Linked DNA regions of Homo sapiens. The protein of the gene in region 5 interacts with the protein of the main gene of each other region in a pairwise test. Each region holds a gene or a part of one and is shown on either strand. Other genes may lie near its edges. The genes, in order: SH3GL3, LUC7L2, LUC7L, ZNF76 and ANTKMT.

Region 1 (4,835 bases), on a different chromosome or scaffold from region 5:
ACCATATCATTTTAAATACTGTGGCTTTATAATAAATGTTAACAGGCCGGGTGTGGTGGCTCACACCTGTAATCCCAGCACTCTGGGAGGCCAAGGCGGGCAGTTCACTTGAGGCCAGGAGTTTGAGACCACCCTGGCCAACATGGTGAAACCCCATCTCTAAAAATACAAAAGTTAGCCAGGCATGGTAGCGCATGTCTGTAATCCCAGCTACTCAAGAGGCTGAGGCAGGAGGATCACTTGAACCTGGGAGGCGGAGGTTGCAGTGAGCTGAGATCACACCACTACACTCCAGCCTGGGTGACAGAGTGAGACTCCATCTCAAAAATAAATAAATAAATAAAATGTTAATAACTAGTAAAACTAGTTCATAGTCATTACCCTTCTATTTCAATATTTCCTTGCTATTCTCATGAATTCATTTAACTAGGTATATTTCAGTATTAATATGACACATTTCTCTCACAAAAATCTCACTTCAATTTTGACTAGTTCATACTTTTTTTCTTTGAGTATTAATAAGATTAATCTTAGGAGTTTTTTTTTTTCTTAATAAGTGACTTTTGCCATCCTATTTGATGATTTCCATTTTTATTTCCTTTTTCTGTTATAAGACTTTTTCCTCCCTCTAGACTTCAAGTGAGAATTGAACAAGTTCTGCTAGAGATTATGTTCTTTCTCCACTAAGTCTTCTAGGTCCAAGTAAAGAGAATAGGTACGTTGGGGTATTTCTGTGGCTGGCCAAATGAGATGCCCCTTTGTCCTGGGGAGGGGTAGAGAGGTGACAGCATTATGGGAGGAGGAAGACAAGAGTTGGGGCAATGGAGATTCCTGTTGTGAGAAGGATTATATTATAGTTGTTTAGACAGCTTGAAATTCATGGAGTAGCGCCTATATCTCTAAGGAACAGGGCACTCTAAGGAGCCTTCATCAGCGGAGCTCCCCAGGTTGTACCAAGGTGGCTTCCTGTTGCCTTCCTATGGCAGTGGTTCTCAACTTGGTGGCACACTAAACAGCCCACTGCCCAGGGTGAACCCGGCATCAGTATTTTTTGTTTCTCAGGTCCTTCCTATGTCCAGGGTAGGTTGACAACCACCAGTGAAATGATCCTCCCCTCTCCTTCCCCTAAGGAAGCGTTAAAGGTTAAAGAGACTCAGCTGGCGAGGAAAGAGAAGGGGGTAATGGTAGGGGAGCTCTTCTTCCTCTTCAGGGAGGCAGCTCCTGTACTGGGTCGTGACTTTGAAACTCTGAACCCACCTGCAATATAACCTCTATGATCTACATGATGTTTCTAGCCTCTAGACAGCTCCTTCCGTGACAGACCCCACCCCTGCCTAAGTCTGTGTATTCCTCTTGTCATAATGATGAAAGCTAGGGGGTGGAAGGCTGTAAATATTGGGGATTAGTTCACTATTTTGAATTTGAACAGAACAACATTCAATGATTTCAAACAAAGCATGGGGAATAGAGGGCTTACAATACAGAACTTTTCATTTTCCTTGGGTCATGGAGTGTGTATATGGGTGGGCAGGTGGGGGCTGAGCACTGAAAACCAAGGGCAACCTGAGCTGTGAGTCAAAGTCTACTTTATTAATGTATAACTGTTTTAATGTGGATTATAAAAATAATTATTATTCTTTTAGCATTTCTCCCACTACTAGACTAGTTTTTAACAGAGAAGGGGTCAGGTGCCAAACCACATGGTAGTCTCGGGAAGCATTTCCTTGAACACAGAATGTTAATGCTAGAATGGAATTTGGCAGTCCTCCATGAGTCCTCTCCTTTTCCAAGAGAAGCCATCAATGCCTCTGAGAGGTCATAATGGCCTGGCCCCAGGGCTACTGGCTGAGCCAGAAACAGGAGGGCTCCAGACCCTAGGCCATCAGCTACCTTGCTCCATGTCACCTCGTACATGATCTATGACACCACTAAGGGTTGCCAAGACATTTCATAGGCTGACACACTGATTACAGGGCTAATGATAGATAGATAGATAGATAGATAGATAGATAGATAGATAGATAGATAGATAGATTTATATATTTCCCTCCCATTTACTCTATAAGCCACCTGCAATGACCAAAATGCTTAGTGGCAAGCATACATTTGTCCAAGTGTATGCACCACCTCCATGTGTAAACCAGGCCACCACCTCCATGTGTAAACCTGGGTTCTTGCTGCACACACACACAGAACAAATCATGGAAAAGCTGCATTACTCACTTCTCATGTCATTCATTCTTGGCAAGGAACCACTGCCACATTGCCCACTTTGATATTCTGAGAGCTGGAAAGAGACCAGCACTCATATCACACTCCATCAGCACCTAAACCCAAGGCAGGGCATCTCTCCAGAGACCACTGAGTAGAAAGACCCTGTTCAAGAACTCCCTGACTCAGGCAGTACAAGTGCACCTGGCCCTCCAGCCACCACTGGGCTGGCTACAACACTAAGAGCAATTGGCACTTGCTAAGTAGGCAGTTGGTAAATCCACCCCAACCAGAGCTCAGACTGGCTGCCCTGAATTATACATGCAGCCGGACGATATTCTGAAGTATCAATGCATTTTTCATTCTGGGTCATTTCTGTTGCCTGGGGCCCTCAACCCAAGGAGCTGGGGCTTGCCTCCCTTACTTGAGGAGGAGGGTGGAACCCAGACATGAACAAAGCAGTCAATGTTTAGCTTTTAAATTCCCAAATAATACCATTTCAGTTGTGAAACATTGTGAAAGCCAAGGCTTTTAGGCTTTCATGCTAGAGCCAGGTAGGCTTTTATAAGATTTAAGAGCGAGAGAGAGAGAGAAACTTCTGGGTTCCAAGAACTAGAGCTTGAAGAACTCAGAGCCTAGCATTTTGATTACAAGCCATGGAGAGGGAGGAGCTGTTTCCTGCCATCCAGAGAAGAGATACAAGCTCTTTCTGGAGGCAGGGAAGCAGGGAAGGGGCCTGCAGTGAGAAGAGGGTGAGCAAGAAAATTGAAATGCTCCTTGGATGCCACCCTGGGGAAGGGGGTCTTAGACTCCACTTTCCACAGAAATCCCGGGAGAAGGCAGCTGTCAAAGTTCTCTGGACTAACACGGGGGCTGGAGCCCAGTGGAAACCATGTGGTGTCACTAAGTACAGATGGGGCCTGAAGGCTGGTCGCTCCCTGTGAACTGTGAACAAATTCCCTCAAGTCCCCAGCAGGAAGTGCTGAGGGGCCACTGAGGCCAGAGGCTGCCTGGGGGCAGTGACACACGGCTCCAAATACAGAGATTCAGCAACCCAGAGAGGGAGGCCTAAGCCACAGATGTCAGCACAGATCCTGGCCCAGGCCCCAGGCCTCCTGTGACGAGTCACCTCAGCTGTGGAAGTGAGCCTCCCTACCTGCCACCATGATGTTCTGTAAACCCCCCTCACATCTAGGCAACATCTTAGGACTGGACCAGGGGGAGGAGAGAACCTTCAAGAAAAACCAACAGCCCTGATAGGGAATTTCTACTCTGAATTGACTGTGTTTAAATCTGGAATCGCCTAAGTCATAAACGGATAGTCTATGCTTTCTATTGGAAGAGACTGAGCTACCTTGAAATGGCAAGATTATGCTTTTTTCCACCATTAGAAGAAATGGAAAAAAGATTTTAAAGCTTTTTTTTTTTTTTGGTCAACAACAGAAATGGAAAAAAGATTAAGTTGTTTCCGCCATTGGTCTACATAGAGGCTTGCAAGCAAGTTCAGTTCAGCTAAAGAGAAATTAAGTTGCTGCCCGCCTGAGGGACAGTGTGTGAATTTTCCCTTGACACAAAAGTCACCATGGATGGAGCCCCAAAGTCCAGGCAGAATGGGCTGGATTTCCTCAATGGAGGCTTTCCAACTGTTAGATATAAGCCTCTCCAAGGGACCTGAATGCTTGGTTTCCCACCATCAGAAGCCAGCACCTCAGCTGAAAACGTCTCGTAAGAAAAGACTGATCCTACCCAGCGTCCCATCCCTGTTGACAACCCCTTCCCCTTGCCCCTGTGGTCCTGCAGCTGGCAGTTCCTCATCCACCTCCACCTCCTTGCTCTCTCACATTCAGTAGCTGGCACCTGGAATCGCTGGGCATAGTTGTGTAGGAGCTCCCAGGTGGCTGCTGTGGATCTCGGTGTCCTTGAACAGGCGGCTGAAACCCCTGACCCTGGGCTGTCCAGTGAGACGGCTTCAGCCAGCACTGCCCTCCCCAAGTGGCCTTGTGTTGATTTTCTCTTACTCCTGAGACCTGGCTTCAACGAAACGTGAGAGCAGAGGTGGGAAAACACAGTCTTCCTTGTTAAAGTATTGAAACAAAGATTATTTTAACAGAGAAAAGGGAGTGTCCCTGTTAAATATTTATTATTCAAGCTCTGTTCCACACCATTAGGAAAAAGAGAAAGAGAGAGAGAGAGAGAGAGACCCTACCACAAGAGTTTAAGACGGCTGGTCAGTAAGTACTGTATCAGTAACACAGTAGGAGGTAGGAAAACCACGTCCCCCCTGAAATAAACTGAACTTCCCCCTTGGCATTAATATGGTTCAGTCCCTCTTATTTTAACAGCAGGAACATTATTTGCGGTGCCCCTCCCCCAACTCCACTTATTTTGTCTCTATATATATATATAGACACACACACATACATTTATACACACACACATACATATTATATATATATATATATATTTTTTGGCTGAAGTCCCTGCTGCTGCAAAGGGTTACTTGCATATGCAGAAATGCTGAGCACATTTTATTAAGGTAGAGGCGGTCCAATCCTACAATTCCTCAGCCCTACTCAGCTACAGGGACGAAATAATAACTCTCAGGTGTTAGTGTTTACCATGTG
Region 2 (3,865 bases), on a different chromosome or scaffold from region 5:
AAAAAGTGAAAGAAATGTATTATCTAAATTTTAAATGGCTTAGAATAGGGGCCAGATGGTGACTATCTGGGGTACTGCAGGTCCATGCAATCTTTGTGGCAGTTCTTTTCTTTTTAGAATGTAAAAACCATCCATAGCTTGCTGGTTGTACAGGCTACCGGCCAGATTTGGCCTATCGGCAACAGTTTGCCAACACCTGACTTAGATAAGAGAACTACTCAATTATTAATATGAATTTAAATAACCACTTCTAAAAATCTACTCATACTGAGTTAGCTTATTCAACCAACAAGGGGAAATAAAAAAAGACAAAGATGCTCACACTAATAAATCTTGATTAGCCATAACTGTTTACTACCTTCTCCATTCCCATACCCAACTTCATTATAAGAAAGGTAAATAATAAATCAATCGGAAAACCAAACATATTATGGAATCAGAATAAACATGGAATCTTCCATACTTCCAACATCTAAAATTCAACAAATTACATTTATTTGGTTCTTTACAGGTGACACAGCACTTTTACATAATTATCTCACTCAACCCATATTCAAAATTAGGATCTGAGGCACTACCAAGAACCTGAATAAGTAATACTTTCAGGAAAATAAAAAATATGACTGTTCAGTTTTAGAAATATAGTTAAGGAGGGTTAAACAAAAAATGGTTCTAAAATAATGTCCACTTTGAACATTCTACTTAATGTTTTAATAAACTTAAAATGATATAAAAAGACTGGGCACGGTGACTCACGCCTGTAATCCCAGCACTTTGGGAGGCCAAGGCAGGCAGATCACTTGAGGTCAGGAGTTCAAGACCAGCCTAGCCAACATAGTGAAACCCCCGTCTCTACTTAAAATACAAAAAATTAGCTGAGAGTGGTGGCGTGTGCCTGTAGTCCCAGCTACTCGGGAGGCTGAGGCAGGAGAATCACTTGAACCTGGGAGGCGGAGGCTGCAGTGAGCCCAGATCGCATTACTGCACTCCAGCCTGGGTGACAGAGCAAGACTCCATCTCAACAACAACAAAAAATCACAGTGCCAAGTCTAGTGATTCCACGTCTACACTAGTCCTATCCATAGCCTTTGTTGGAATAAAATATGAAAAGAGATGGTAAAAATGATACCTAAAAAGACACTAGATGCCAAACAGTCCCAGTGATCAGTAATAACTAAAAAACTATGAGTATCAACTACTATGTCCCACACATAGTGGTTTCCATATACTATTTTACTCAAACTACCAATAATCTTAACAAAGCAGGTATTCTTACTTTCTCCACTTAGTAGATGGGGAAAGACAGGTGAGATAGTTATAAATTACTTAGCCAAGGTGGGACGTGGTGGCTCATGCCTGTAATCCCAGCATTTTGGGAGGCCAAGGCAGGTGGATCACCTGAGGTCGGGAGTTTGAGACCAGCCCGGCCAACATGGCGTAACCCTGTCCCTACTAAAAATACAAAAATAGCCAGGTGTGGTGGCCTGGGCCTGTAATCCCAGCTACTTGGGAGGCCGAGGCAAAAGAATCGCTTGAACCCGCAAGGCAGAGGTTGCAACGAGCCGAGATCGCGCCACTGCCCTCCAGCCTGGGTGACAGAACGAGACTCTCGTCTCAAAAAAAAAAATAAATTACTTAGCCTAAACCAATGAACCCAAGTAATCTGACTTTGGAGTCTGCACTAAACATGTTTGAACAGAGCAAAAAGATAGATAGATGCAAATGGTCCTCATTTACGCAGGGCACTATTGCCAGGAAGAGGTCACAAAGAATCTACTTGTATCAGAGACAAGTATTTCACAGTAGGGAAAGGAGAACAGCAAAACATAAAAGGCTTTCAATAAGAACTTTTACCTTGAAAAATTAAACCCAAATATGTAGCAATAACTTGATGTTGTATGAAATACCAAGTAGGTTTTAACAGCAATTATCTGGTAATTTTTAGTATAAAACAAAGAATGATGCTTTAAAAGAGAATAATTTGAATTCAAAGATGAGAAAGTGCTCGAGAAAAGCAAAACTTTTAATAGTTTTACAAAAATAATCCTCTTTATGAACATGCTGACATCTTAGATATGATCATGTATCATGTATGGTGGAAAAATTCCTATACAACTTCATCAACGCAGGAAGCATCAGGGACTAAAATAACACAATCTCAGATTAGGGGACTTCACGCCCATCCTTCCCATACCCATCACCAATAAAGACATTTAGGAGTTCAGCAACAACAATGACAGTTGGGCAGATTTGACACAGGAAAATGTCTAAACCTTCCATCACCTAGCAGGATAATTCTGAAAATTCATTGTGCAGATAAGACAGGTAACTTTTAAAAAATGCTTATTTCTGAACACTGCACTGAGGGTAGACCCCCAAAATCAGTTTCAAGAGTGTGAGATAAGAGGCCTACAAATCACTCTGTCCTTTACAAACTCCCTCCTCATTCTCTGCATTTGCCTAGGATATTCACTCTATATGGAATATCTTTTTCCTAGCTGATTCTACCTGTTCAAATTTTACCGACTACCTGAAGCCATTTTTGATTACTCTGTTATTTGCCTCATCTAAACTCTCGGATCATTTATTCTATGATATGCAGTTTAGCACTTTATAACATGTGGTAGTCTTATGCCAGTCTAATTATTGTCAAAGATGTCAATCCTTTGTTCTAACTCACATAGGAGACTTTTTGTTTTTTTTTTTGTTTGTTTTTTTTTGTTTTGAGAGCTGGAGTCTCGCTCTGTCACCCAGGCTGGAGTGCAGTGGTGCGATCTTGGCTCACTGCAACCTCCACCTTTGTGTTCAAGCAATTCTCCTTCCTCAGCCTCCTGAGTAGCTGGGATTACAGGCATGTGCCACCATGCCCGGCTAATGTTTGTATTTTAGTAGAGATGGGGTTGGTTGGCCAGGCTGGTCTTGAACTCCTGATCTCAAGTGATACGCCCATCTCGGTCTCCCAAAGTGCTGGGATTATAAGCGTGAGCCATGGCACCCAGCCTCACATAGGAAACTTCTTAGAGCAACTTAAAGTTGTTCAACTATGTTATACGTCTTTCTTATGTTTTACTAAGTCTAGTACAGTAAAACATATACAATTAATTATTATTAAAATCACCTTAAGAAATACTAAAAACAAGGCCAGAATATAAGAAATAAAATATTGAGAGCCTATTAACAAACTCAGCTTGTGAGTGATTTCAGGGAATGGAAAGTTGAGTCAAAAAAAAATAGGAAAGATTTTAACAGCTTTCTGTGGATTTTATTATAGATTTTATGTGGAGTAATCCACAGAATATGTAAGACTAGTAGGTACTAGGCACTCAAAAAATGTTTATCATACATATACTTCTGAATAGTTGTCAAGAAAAAAGCAATTTTAAACATGGCTTACGTTACACAGAAATTACCTGGTTTAAGGGCCATCATGTGACCTGAGAAGTTTTGACAGTTTGATCTATACAGACTATGAATGCTAAACTCTTCTACCACATTATAATCCTTTGTCTATCCTTAATAGATATTCAAGTCCTCAAACATACCTTACCCTATGCCTGCACCTTTTGAATGTTCTCATTAAACCAAGGGAAGTCTTGGAACCTCCTTATTAGTCTGCCTTGCCAAGCTGAAGGTATGTAACAATACATATCTATAGTGCAGATAAAACAAGAATATACTAGAATGTGTCTGCTCTGAAAAAGCATCCCAGCTCAAATAAGTTTAGAAAACAATAAATCAAAGCTAAACAACTCTTGTAATGAAAGGACTTCTCAGAGCCCCTAATTTGCTGATCCATACTAAGGGTATTGGTATTTAAAATTATTTACCTGTAAAGAACTTTTTTCCAAGACACACTAAGCAGAGA
Region 3 (4,835 bases), 510 kb from region 5:
GCCTAGCACGGGAAAAGCACAGCGCTATAATCAATGATGTGTAAAGCGTAAAGTCTTAGAACCCATTTGCTTGATAGGAAATACACTCCTAGGTTCGTTTCTTTAAAGCCTGTACATTCAAGGGAAAGATCTTAAACTACACTACCACTAACGCATTCATAATTGCATTAAATCAAGGGGATCTGTTAAACAGAATGATTGTTTGGAAGCATGGTCTTCTCATTTGATTTACTTATTTCCAAAATTTGTAAAAGGACCTCCAACCCTCAATAACATTACAAAGAAATTCTGAGGAAAATTAAAACACTTGGCAGCAATTCATAGAGTTCTCGGAGGGACAGAAAAGGCTGAGCCTAGACTCGTGCTGGAGGCCCTCTTCTGGGGAGTTGTGAGAGATGCATATGATGTACTCACTGGTCTTTGTGAGCCACGTAAATATTATTCCCTCATGTTCTGAGGGTAGGGTCCCCCCTTTCACCTCAAAAACAAAACAATAGAACAAATATTACTGAGAGCTATGAATACATTTTGTTATTGCCTACTATCTAAAGTAGCAGGAAAAATTGGTTGCTATTTACCCAAAGAGATAAAGGAAAAGAAGCTGTAGACGTCAAATTGCTTACTCTGAAAAGGGTGGTGGGAAACATTAAGAGAACTATCATATGCTAAGGTTAATTCACCATAACTAGGCAAAGGCTAACATAATTTCAGATAAAAACAGAGACAGGACCGGACGCAGTGGCTCACACCTGTAATCCCAGCACTTTGTGAGGCCAAGGTGGGCGGATCATGAGGTCAGGAGTTCAAGACCAGTCTAGCCAACATGGTCTCTAATAAAAATACAAAAATTAGCTGGGCATGATAGCGGGTGCCTGTAATCCCAGCTACTCAGGTGGCTGAGGCAGGAGAATCGCTTGAGCCTCGGAGGCAGAAGTTGTAGTGAACTGAGACCAGACCACCACACTCCAGCCTAGGCAACAGAGCAAGACTCCGTATCAAAAACAAAAACAAAAACAAAAAAAGGCAGGGCCCAGTGGCTCACACCTGTAATCCCTGCACTTTGGGAGGCCGAGGCGGGAGGATCCATGAGGTCAGAGGTTCAAGACCAGCCTTCCCAATACAGTGAAGCCCCATCTCTACTAAAAACATAAAAATTAGCTGGGCGTGGTAGCATGCACCTGTAGTTCCAGCTACTCAGGAGACTGAGGCAGAAGAATCGCTTGAACCTGGGAGGAAGAGGTTGCAGTGAGCCGAGATGGCACCACTGCACTCCAGCCTGGGCAACAGAGCAAGATTCCATCTCAAAAAAAAAAAAAAAAAATAGGGCATCACTTTTCCGACTGTCAGCCAGTGACCAGTAGTAAGAAACACTAACATTAAACCATGAGTCAGCTTGCTAATGTCAGCATCATGATAAACATAAATAAGTTTGTTTTGCAATGATGACAAGGTTAGATAGCATGATCTTTTACCAAAAACTAAATTTTAGGTGGAGATGAGAAGGCAGATGACAGGAAAACACTAAGGGGTGATAACCTAAGTCACCGCTCCTAAAACAGACAGGAGACAGTAGGTCAGCTGTAATAAACTGCTCCACAATGGATTACACAGACACTGGAGAAGATTGTGATCTTCTCTAGAAATCTTAAATATTTTTTTCAAAAACATGCATACTTGGGAGTAGGTAAGATAGGGAAGAACCTCCAAGTCTCCTGGTGCCCAGTCTCCCAAGAAGCTGGAGAAAGCACAAGCAGCATCACTGATGAAGGCTGACTCCCAGATATCACTCCATAATTTTGGAATTCAAAAACTGCCTCTTGGCCAGGCGTGGTAGCTCACGCCTGTAATCCCAGCACTTTGGGAGGCCAAGGCGGGTGGATCACTTGAGGTCAGGAGTTCGAGACCAGCTTGACCAACATGGAGAAACCCCATCTCTACTAAAAATACAAAATTAGCCACGAGTGGTGGTGCATGCCTGTAATCCCAGCTACTTCGGAGGCTGAGGCAGGAGAACTGCTTGAACCTGGGAAGCAGAGGTTGCAGTGAACTGAGATCGCGCCATTGCACTCCAGCCTGGGCAACAAGAGCGAGACTCCCTCTCAAAAAAATACATAAACTGCTTCTTGTTGGTCACCCAGATATTCTCTAGTCAACATTTCAGTATGTTCAAATCAAAGAATCAGGAAAACAAATGATCCGGCATTTGACTGCTTCTATGCACCTGTACACTGGACTTTCTGGAAAGGTGAAGAGCTGGCTGGAGCTCATCAGGATCCAAGTATTAAGGAGCTGACAAGGGTCACTGTGCCTTCTCTTCTGTGCTTACCTCAGACAACAGCCCCTAACAGACCAGTCTGAGATGCTCCAGGTTCACCCACACAGTGGCCCTGTACTGTCTGCTCAAGCTGAGCAATCAATCACCAACCTGAGACAGATTCAGGGATTCACTCGAGGGGTCAAATGGGAAATAGGCAGCTGACAACTCTCCCAATACCTAAACCCATCAAAGCAATTACCTGCACCTTAAGCAGAATCCAAATTGGCTATGGACTCAGATGTCTGATAACCTAAAAACTAAATGGTGGCCGGGCGTGGTGGCTCACGCCTGTAATCCCAGCACTTTGGGAGGCTGAGGTGGGCGGATCACGGGGTCAGGAGATCGAGACCACCCTGGCTAACACAGTGAAACCCCGTCTCTACTAAAAATACAAAAAATTAGCCGGGCGTGGTGGCGGGCGCCTATAGTCCCAGGTACCCGGGAGGCTGAGGCAGGACAATGGCATGAACCCGGGAGGTAGAGCTTGCAGTGAGCAGAGACTGTGTGCCACTGCACTCCAGCCTGGGTGACAGGGCAACACTCCGTCTCAAAAAAAAAAAAAGAACACTAAATGGTAGGCCCAGCACGGTGGCTCACGCCTGTAATCCCAACACTTTGGGAGTCTGAGACCAGCCTGGCCAGTATGGTGAAACCCCATCTCTACTAAAAATACAAAAAATTAGCCAGGCGTGGTGGCGGGCACCACTGGTTGCTATTTACCCAAAGAGATAGAGGAAAAGAAACTCTAGACGTCTAATTGCTTACTCTGAAAAGGGTGGTGGGAAACACTAAAAGAACTATCATATGCTAAGGTTAATTCGCCTTACGAGGTGAATCCCAGCTACAAGGGAGGCTGAGGCAGGAGAATCGCTTGAACCTGGGAGGCGGAGGTTGCAGTGAGCCAAGATCACGCCACTGCACTCCAGCCTGGGCGACAGAGCAAGACTGGCTCAAACAGAAAACAACAACTATAAATGGTAAACTTCACAACAGAGAACAAGCCAACCAAGAGCTGCCAAGTTCTTTAAAAGGTGGCTTTCTGTTCTACTGCCCTCTCCCTTCAAAGTGTTTCTCAACTTTAGCCTGTTTCTTAAAAGAGCAGATCTAAATGATAAAAAAAAGACATTCGATTCCAAAAATTAAGTCCTAATCACAACCTACCACTTACTAGAAAGTCACCCAATCTCTCTCTATCTCTGAGTAGCGTTATGAAACATAAACCCTAAAAGCCCCTGAGCACAGACAGCACCAGCACAAAGACTTGTGTCCTAACAGTATGGCAAAACTGGACAATATCAGCACACGTCATCTCCACTGAGGAGGCTGTCCCTCCACACACGGACTGCCTGGTGCTGTTACCAGCTCTCCCGGCCCAGCAGCACTGACACAGGCCGGTGGTCACTGAGCCTGAGAAAAGCCCATGATGTCAGTCAGAACTGTCACAGCAGACAGGTGCCCTTGTGCTGCACTAGGCACGTGCGCTAAACACCTCCAAAGAGCCGCAGAGGGGCCGGGCGCGGTGGCTCACGCCTGTAATCCTAGCACTTTGGGAGGCTGAGGTGGGTGGATCACCTGAGGTCAGGAGTTTGAGATCAGCCTGACCAACAAGGAGAAACCCCATCTCTACTAAAAATACAAAATTACCCAGGCGTGGTGGTGCATGCCTGTAATCCCAACTACTCAGGAGGCTGAGGCAGGAGAATCACTTGAACTCGGGAGGCGGAGGTTGCAGTGAGCTGAGATCGTGCCATTGCACTCCAACCTGGGCAACAAGAGCGAAACTCCATCTCAAAAAACACAGCCGCAGAGGAGCTCGTCGGGTCTCCATTGCATGGATGATGAAAGTGAAGCACAGCTACCAAACCACTAAGTAAGCAATGGAGTCAGGATCCAAGGACCCTTGTGGTCTGGCTCCAAAGACCTGCACTTCATCCTCACAAATCTGAGGCAGCCATCGTCAGCCCAGTTTATAGATGAAAAAAAGAAGGTGAAATAACTTGCCCAGGGTCACACAGGGACTCTAACTCAAGACATTTGACCTAGAAAAATGTCACTCTTATACTGGACAACTGTAAGACAGGAAAACTACATACAATCAGAACTGGTCTCATGTGGTATATTAAAAACAGCTTTGAAATGAGCCCATATATGTTGTTTTGAAAACTTTTCAAAACATCACATGGCCAGACAACATGGGAGTAAAGGTTAATTACACTTTTGGTGAATTACAAAGACACATTCATTACATTTTCAACATGTGAACACTAAAGAAATATACCTTTTTTTTTTTTCCCGAGAGGATCTTGCTCTGTCACCCAGGCTAGAATACAGTGGCACGATCACGGCTCACTTTAGCGTTGACCTCTCAGGTTCAAACCATCCTTCCACCTCAGCCTCCAAAGCAGGTAGGACTATAGGAACACGTCACTACACCCAGCTAACATTTCTGATTTTGTAGAGACTTTGCCCAGGCTGGTCTCGAATTCCTGGGCTCAAGCAATCTTCCGGCCTCTGCCTC
Region 4 (3,500 bases), on a different chromosome or scaffold from region 5:
GATAAAGACCAAAATCCTCACCCTGACACTCAAACCCAGAGTGCACCAGCCCTGTCTTTCTCTCTCCAGTTTCCTCCTGCTCATTCTGCCTTCACTCCCAGGGCTCTAGCTCCTAGCAGTTCCTGGAATGTGCTGTTCTTTCTTCCCCCCAGCTCTAGGCCTGCACATGCTATTCCTTCTGCCTGAAGTACTGAACCCTCCCTGCCATCCCTCTTCCCCCAGCTAAGTCTACCTCATTCTTTACCTCTCAGCTCAAGCATCACTACCTCAGAGAAGCCCTCCCTGAGCCTGATCTCTGTTTGTAATGATCAGTTCATCACTGATGGCTTGTTTCACTTCTGTTTCCCCCTCTAGACTCTAGGAGAGCGGGGACTGTGTCTGACTTTGTTCTGTCTTGTATACTGCACACCTAACACAACGCCAGGCATGCAACAGTCACTCAAGAAACCACCTGCGGAAGGAATAAATTGTTATTCTTCAGCACCTTAGGAGCTTCATTCTAAAATATTAGTTTTTTTTCCTGGTCTTGGATGATATCCTCGGGTCCTATTTAAAGCCCTAAGACTTTGTGGCTGTGCTGGAGCCAAGGCCACCATCAAAGTCCACGTCACTGATCTCCAAGGCTCACCTCCCAGTTGCAGACATAGCTGCTCCTGTGGTCTGCACCAGGGAAGGTGGGCAAGGCTGCTAATCCAGGTGAGCATGTGTGTACCATGGAGATGACAGCTCCCATGTCTACACCCCAGTTGTGTGCCATCCCATCCTCCAGTCCTGCCACCCCATCCTCCAGTCCTGCCTCCCATCCTTCCCCGAGTTGTGATGATGGTGACCCTACCTCTGGGTGTGCGGTGTATGTAAGCCATGCTGCCATCTTCCAGCTGCACAGGCTGACCATCCTCAAAGGAGAGAGCTTCTGTAACGAGAGCAATGCCTGCCTTTCCCTGGAGCTCAGTGCCATGGAGGGGTCCCTTGGTGGGGGCTGTCAGGCTTCCCTCGACAAGGCATGGTGTGTTGGGGTGCCCTCACCTTTCTGTACCGTCACCTGGTGAATGTATGCGGTGGTCCCATCCTCGAGCTGGATCACCTGCCCTTCAAGAAGCTTCTCTCCTGTTAAGAGTGGAAATAGAGAGAAATGGGCCAGGACCAGAAGAGGGCTAAGAAACGCCTGCCTGTTTTTAGCTGAGGCTTATTTGAGTCTCTAGGCACGAGCCTGCAGGTCTAAGCATGGGTAACATCTTCCTTGTTCCCTTGCTCTGTCTCCCTGGGCCTGGGCCTTGAGACACTAAGGGTGAAGACACTTGCCTTGCCGAACCCATCACCTCCCAACAGATTCCCTTCCAGTTACTAACAGGAGGAATAACTTCACTTATTATTCTACCCATGCCCAGCCAAGTGGAAACTTCCAACCTAATAGTAAGTTGCTGAGACTTGAACTAATGGCCCTTAAACCTGGATGAGCCCCAGTGGGTCAAAATTCAGATATAGCTCAAACTAACAAAATCAAAACATATCCCCTCATCCCTCACTATGACAGTGTGCTAAGACCAGGAGCCCCTGTGAAGGCAGGATATATAGCTTAATGGTTAAAAACAATAGACTCTGGAACCAGGCCAGGCCTCCAGAGTTTGAATTCCAGCTCTACCTCTTAACAGCTGTGTGACCTTGGACAGCTTATTTAACTAACCTCTCTGTGCCTCAGTTTCCTTTTCTTAAAATGGGGATTGAAAACTGTGTCTCTTATAGGGTTGCTGTTAGGGTTAAATGAGTTAACGAATATAAAAAACTGGGAAGAGTGCCAGGTATATATGGTCAGCCCTCAATAAATCCTAGCTTTTATTATAAGCCCAATATGCATTTTAGAAGAAATGGAAAGTAAAGCAATAGAGAACTATGTGAGCACAACTATTATGCTATTATGTGTCCATGAAGGTCTTATTCCACTGCCACTGTTGAGTAATGTTCCTTCATTGACCTCTCATTTTTCATTTCAATTTTCTAGTAAAAAATTAGATCACCTAAGGCAACACAACAAGCAGCATAAAAATTAACAAGCCTCCAGATTTCCTAAGATATTACTCTTCCTTTACCTTACTGGAAAGCACTTCTAATAAGGCTCTTGAAATTAGAACTAGACGACCCTTCCTTGTGTCCAGTGAGTCTGACAGAGGGGGAAGGAAGAAGAGAAATGAGAAAGGAAAGAAAGGGAGATTGAAGAGTTAATGATGGTCAGATTCGGTGGCTCATGCCTATAATCCCAACACTTTGGGAGGCCAAGGCGGGTGGATCGCTTGAGCTCAGGAGTTTGAGACCAGCCTGAGCTATGTGACAAAACCCTGTCTCTACAAAAAACACAAAAATTAACTGGATGTAGTAGTGCATGCCTGTGGTCCCAGTTACTCGGGAGGCTGAGGTGGGAGGATTGCTTGAGCCCAGGAGGCAGAAGTTGCAGTAAGCCGTGATTATGCCACTGCAGTCCAGCCTGGGTGACAGAGTAAGACCCTGTCTGAAAAAAATAAAAAATAAATAAATAAAAAGGCTGGGCACGGTGGCTTACATCTGTAATCCCAGCACTTTGGGAGGCCAAGGCGAGCAGATCACCTGAGGTCAGGAGTTTGAGACCAGCCTAACCAACATGGTGAAACCCTGTCTCTACTAAAAATACAAAAAAATTAGCTGGGTGTGGAGGCAGGTACCTGTCGTCCCAGCTACTCGGAAGGCTGAGGCAGGAGAATCACTTGAACCCGGGAGGCGGAGGTTGCAGTGAGCTGAGATTGTACCACTGCACTCTAGCCTGGGTGACAGAGTGAGGTCCTGTCTCAAAAAGAAAAAACAAAAAAGTAAGGCTGGGTGTGGTGGCTCACACTTATAATCCCAGCACTTTGGGAGGCTGAGGCAGGCGGATAACCTGAGGTCGGGAGTTCGAGACCAGTCTAGCCAACATCATGAAACCGTGTCTCTACTAAAAATACAAAAAAATTAACCAGGCGTGATGGCACATGCCTATAGTCCCAGCTACTCGGGAGGCTGAGGCAGGAGAATCGCTTGAACCCGGGAGGCGAAGGTTGCAGTGAGCCGAGATCACGCCACTGCACTCCAGCCTGGGCTACAGGGTGAGACTCCGTCTCAAAAAAAAAAAGGAAGAAAAAATAAAAAAAAAGTTAATGACAAGTGATTTGTCCTTTCCTTAGAAGATTGAGGTTTAGGAAACTGAGCGCTCAGGTGGGAAAGACAGTTACTTCCAGCCCAAGTCTCTGCTGACGTCTCCCCTTTAGAGGAATCCCCAAACTTGCTCCCAAACTGAGTCTTCTTGGGGTCAGTAACTAACAGTCCTACAACTAACCAAAGGCAGGTAAGGTGGAGATAAAGGTAAGAAATAGGAAAGGCAGCTGAGATGGGGGGAAGATGAACCCATTTTCTTCCCTCCCACCCACAGAGCAGTAGGCTACCCTCATTTTAACAATTTATCTGTCCTGGCAAGGGCATCAGTACTTGGGGTTCTG
Region 5 (4,523 bases):
CTTGGAGAGGCTTTCCCGTGGGCCGAGCAACCCCCTTACCTTTGGCACTTGCCCTGATTCTCTGGCCAGCTTCCTACAACCTCTCCTTTTCAGCCACACCCAAGTCCACCTGTTCACAAACACCCTGGGCTGGGCCCTGGCCGAACCCTGGCTTCTACCTACCTGTCTCAGGAAGTGCCTGAGCCTTGCACCTACAGACCCTCCCAGAGAAAGCCCTGGCTTTGCAACCAGCTGTCTTCTCATGAGACACAGGGCCACAGGAGCACCACGGTGCCCAAATGGGTCTTGGAGCATTAGACCAGGGGCTTCATGCCTGCCCTGGGGACAGGTGGCCAAAGTGGCATGGGAGATAGGGAGACAGTGTGGGTGAGCAGGTGGGCAGGAGCTACAGGAGCCTGGGGCCTGTGGATCACAGACACCGCCAGGCAAGTGCCAGTTCACACAGGTACAGGTGGCTGCAGAGTGCCCAAAGGCCAAGCAGCAGAGTGCCTGGTGTGGACGGGAGAGGAGTGGGGAGGTTGGGCGCAGTGGCTCACGCCTGTAATCCCAACACTTTGGGAGGCCCAGGCAAGCAGATCATGAGGTCAGGAGATGGAGACCATCCTGGCCAACATGGTGAAACCGTCTCTAATAAAACACAAAAAATTAGCCAGACATGGTGGCATGCATCTGTAATCCCAGCTACTCAAAAGGCTGAGGCAGAGGAATCACTTGAACCTGGAAGGCAGAGGTTGCAGTGAGCCAAGACTGCGCCACTGCACTCCAACCTGGGCGAAAGAGCGAGACTCAAGTCTCAAAAAAAAAAAAAAAAAAAAAAAAAAAAAAAAAAGAAGAGTGGAGAGTGCACGCTAGAGTCCAATTAGGTGCATTCATCCAGTAAGCCTCCTAGGTAACTGCTCTAGGTGCAGGGAATAATGCAGGCAGCAGGACAGGAATGGGCGCTGTCAGCTCCCCCTAGAGCTCAGTGTACATACACCCTTCCTTTCCTGGGAGGGCCGTTCCAGGCCCCCAGGAGACAGGACACGCTGAGCTGGGTGGGGCTGGGGCCAACGTGGGCAGGCCTGTGAGACTCTGCACTTGGGAGCTGGGGGCTGTGGTCTGCGGCATACCCATGTCTGGAAGCAGCCTCTGTCCCTGCAGGGGCTCTAGACCCCAGCCACGGATGGCTAAGGAGGAGCTAGGCCAGGGCACGCATAGACAACCCCCGACATTCACGGGTGTTCAGCCCTACCCTGGGTGTGGAGGTCGTGGCCCAGCTGCCTGACCCAGAGCTCGGCTCTTCCACTTGCGCTTCCCACCCCCAGCTTCACAAGGTCACCTCCAGGAACTCAGTCTTTTTGTGTGTTGTTTTCTGGAGAAGGAAGGTGATCTCCCCACTCCCGGGGCTGTCTGCCTTCCCTGTAGCTGGCAGGTGCCAGAGGCCCCCGCCTGTGACATCCGGCTTTCCTCCCACCACACTCGCCTGAGAGCCAGCATCTGTCTTCTTGGGCCTGCTCAAGCTCTCCTCCGTGTCAGCCCCTCCTCCATGCCCTTCTCCCTCAGACCCCACCCCCCATCCCTTCACCGCCCACTGGGGCTCATCGCTCAGGCTGTAGGAGGGAAATGGAAGGATGTCCTCCCGGGCTCTGGCTGGCGCTGGGTGTCCGAGTCAGCGGAGCGCCCCCAGCAGTCTCCCCGAGGCAGAGTCATGGGGGTGCTGGCGCCTGGACGCTGTCTCATCCCGGGGAGCCGCTTTCCCACCGGCTCCCTGGGCTCCAGCCGCCCCACGCGAGCCCCCGGCTGGTTCTGGGGCCAGGACCGCCCCTCTCCAAGGCAGACTTCCCTTCATTCCACGACAAAGACGCGCAGCCCCGTTTCCCTGGGGCTCTAGCCCGTGAGATCGCCGGGTGTATCCCGACTCCCGCCGGCACGTGCGCTCCCCCAGGGCAGGGCCTGCCTGTCCCCTTCCGCGGGTCGCCAGCAGCCAGCACAGGCCGCAAACGGCGGTCCGCAGAGCGGACCAACGGAGCCGACCCTCGCAGGCTTGGAGCCGGACGCGGCGGGGCAGAGCCCCCGAGGCTGCAGCTCGCCGGAACCCGCGGGAGGGCAGCCGGGCTGGGCGGAGCGCACAGCGCCACGGACCGACCGCGCAGGCTCTGCCGGCCACTTCCGGTGTCGCGCGGCGGCTCCCGGCAGGAGGCAGAGGGCACACCGCCAGCCCCAGGCCAGGCTGCGAGGGCCGCGGACCCGAGCCGGGAAGGACCTTGGGCGGACGAGCCGCGCGTCCCGCAGCCATGGAGCAGGACGACCCGGTCGAGGCGCTGACGGAGCTGCGCGAGCGGCGGCTGGGCGCGCTGGAGCTGCTGCAGGCGGCGGCCGGCTCGGGCTTGGCAGCCTACGCGGTGTGGGCGCTGCTGCTCCAGCCCGGCTTCCGGCGCGTGCCGCTGCGGCTGCAGGTGCGGGGCGGGGCCAGGCCGGGCAGGGGAGCTCGGCTGCCGCTCAGGGTCTCAAGGTCTGGGCGTGGCCGGGGTGAGCTCCGCCCCGCCGTGTGGTAGTTCGGGCCGGGCTGCGGGCGGGGCGGGAGCGGCCAGTGGACTCTCGCCGCCACCCGGTCCAGGTGCCCTACGTCGGCGCGAGCGCGCGGCAGGTGGAGCACGTGTTGTCGCTGCTGCGAGGACGCCCCGGAAAAACGGTGGATCTGGGCTCTGGCGACGGCAGGATCGTAAGTGCCTGCGTCTGGGTCTTCGCCGCCCCACACCGCCCACCTGCTGGCGGGCGCCCCTGCCCACATCCTGGTTCCCACACTCTCGGTGCCCACAGGTGCTGGCGGCCCACAGGTGCGGCCTCCGCCCGGCCGTGGGCTACGAGCTGAACCCCTGGCTGGTGGCGCTGGCGCGGCTGCACGCCTGGAGGGCCGGCTGTGCCGGCAGCGTCTGCTATCGCCGCAAGGATCTCTGGAAGGTAACCTGGGGATCCCTGGCCACCCGCTGACAGCCCAAGGTGCGGCTGACACCTGCGAGGGCTGGGGGCCGGGACTCGGAAGCTGCGATGACCCGGTGCCCACCAGGCCTCTCCCCGGCCGGGGCGACTTCTCTTCCGGCAGGTGAGCCTGAGGGACTGCCGCAACGTGTCTGTGTTCCTGGCCCCTAGCGTGGTAGGTGCGGGGTTGCCAGCCCCGCTGGGAAGCCCCAGCCACACCCCAGGGTGTTTGCTGCTCTGAGGCCTGGGCCTGCCTGGTGGGTGCTAGGCTTGGGGCTAGGGGGGTGAGCGCGGCTGTTTTCTACCGGCCCCGCCCCCGCCCCCTCTACTCTGCTGTTCTCTCCCTCAGCTCCCGCTGCTGGAGGACAAGCTGCGGACAGAGCTGCCTGCTGGGGCCCGCGTGGTGTCTGGGCGCTTCCCACTCCCCACCTGGCAGCCTGTGACCGCGGTTGGCGAGGGCCTGGACCGAGTATGGGCTTATGATGTTCCTGAGGGTGGGCAGGCTGGGGAGGCCGCCTCCTCGCGGATACCCATCCAGGCTGCCCCCGGACCTAGTTCTGCCCCCATCCCGGGGGGCCTTATTTCTCAGGCCAGCTGAGTATTAGACACGATAAAGACTCTGTGGGTTCTATCCTGACTCATGTTTTATGGGGGGCTGGGTGGGAGGGTTCTGTGCTGGCTGAGGAGCTCTGCTCTGCTCTGCTCCTTGGGAGACGGCCTAGTGGCTGCCGGTCCTTGGATGCTGGGGCTTGGCTGGAGGCACAGCCCCCACTTTCCAGGGGTCCCCTGCACCTGCCAGCTTCCTCAGCCTCAGGATTTCGTGCTTGTACCTGCTCAGAGGAACCATGCTTAAGTGACTTGCCCAGCTGTGGACAGGTCTGCTTTTAGCGCCTGAGGCAGCCATCATCCTTCATTCCAACCAGACCAGGGCCCTGGGGTCACACCCAGCTCCCTCTGCCCACCTGCCCAGGTGCTGGTCCACGTACTCCTGTAGCTCAGAAAGTTGCTCTTCAGCCATCGTGGCCCGGACCAGCAGCTGTGCCCGCTCCCGTTCCAGCTCTGCCTGGCATGGGGATGTAAGCCATGAGCTGGGGCATGGCGTGAGGATGGGCCTGGGCCAGCCCTTGCCTCCTACCTGGGTGCTGCGGGAGAAGTCCCGGAGCTTCTGGTGGATCTGGGCCCAGGATGCAGCGTCCAGGCCCCTGTGAGGGGAGAGGAAAGGAGGAGTGGTTTTGAGAGCTGGCATGGTGACACAGGGACAGACGTGACCGTGCTGAGTCAGGTTCCCAGAGCCGGGAGGGGACACCTGGGAGTGAGTGAGGGAGGCATGGGCCCCCCCCGTGCTCCTGTGGCGCCCCCCCCAGGCCTTGGAGCCATCCGTGTATAGGGACAGCCCGGGCCCAGGGGGTCTGCTGGCTGCTGGGGGAGGGCTAAACCACAAGGCCAGCCCAGACAGTGACTCCAGCATCAACAGGGATGCCACCCCCACACGGGTGTGCCCTAAACCCCAGGAAATGGTCCTTGGGGAGCCCTGCCCATTGTACAGCTGGGAACATGGAGGCCCA

The links.
Region 1: the proteins of ANTKMT (region 5) and SH3GL3 interact in a two-hybrid assay, tested with the Homo sapiens proteins (one large-scale study listed by BioGRID and IntAct).
Region 2: the proteins of ANTKMT (region 5) and LUC7L2 interact in a two-hybrid assay, tested with the Homo sapiens proteins (one large-scale study listed by BioGRID and IntAct).
Region 3: the proteins of ANTKMT (region 5) and LUC7L interact in a two-hybrid assay, tested with the Homo sapiens proteins (one large-scale study listed by BioGRID and IntAct).
Region 4: the proteins of ANTKMT (region 5) and ZNF76 interact in binary tests that used the Homo sapiens proteins (3 or more experiments, as listed by UniProt).

What each region holds. Positions count from the first base shown.
Region 1 is NC_000015.10:83,610,821-83,615,655, reverse strand, and holds part of SH3GL3 (endophilin-A3), read right to left. Parts: intron 4,243-4,835; exon of another isoform or gene 4,239-4,242; coding exon of another isoform or gene 4,069-4,238; intron 1-4,068. UniProt on the Homo sapiens protein: Implicated in endocytosis. May recruit other proteins to membranes with high curvature.
Region 2 is NC_000007.14:139,417,972-139,421,836, reverse strand, and holds part of LUC7L2 (putative RNA-binding protein Luc7-like 2), read right to left. Parts: intron 1-3,865. UniProt on the Homo sapiens protein: May bind to RNA via its Arg/Ser-rich domain.
Region 3 is NC_000016.10:208,187-213,021, forward strand, and holds part of LUC7L (putative RNA-binding protein Luc7-like 1), read right to left. Parts: intron 479-4,835; exon of another isoform or gene 415-478; intron 3-414; coding exon 1-2. UniProt on the Homo sapiens protein: May bind to RNA via its Arg/Ser-rich domain.
Region 4 is NC_000006.12:35,283,735-35,287,234, reverse strand, and holds part of ZNF76 (zinc finger protein 76), read right to left. Parts: intron 1,110-3,500; exon of another isoform or gene 1,108-1,109; coding exon 1,027-1,107; intron 914-1,026; coding exon 836-913; intron 805-835; exon of another isoform or gene 261-804; coding exon of another isoform or gene 245-260; intron 1-244. UniProt on the Homo sapiens protein: May be involved in transcriptional regulation.
Region 5 is NC_000016.10:719,002-723,524, forward strand, and holds ANTKMT (adenine nucleotide translocase lysine N-methyltransferase), read left to right. Parts: upstream 1-2,144; 5' UTR 2,145-2,273; coding exon 2,274-2,435; intron 2,436-2,596; coding exon 2,597-2,701; intron 2,702-2,799; coding exon 2,800-2,940; intron 2,941-3,082; coding exon 3,083-3,133; intron 3,134-3,307; coding exon 3,308-3,556; 3' UTR 3,557-3,589; downstream 3,590-4,523. Other genes in the region: CCDC78 (coiled-coil domain-containing protein 78), read right to left, coding at 3,677-3,788, 3,921-4,160.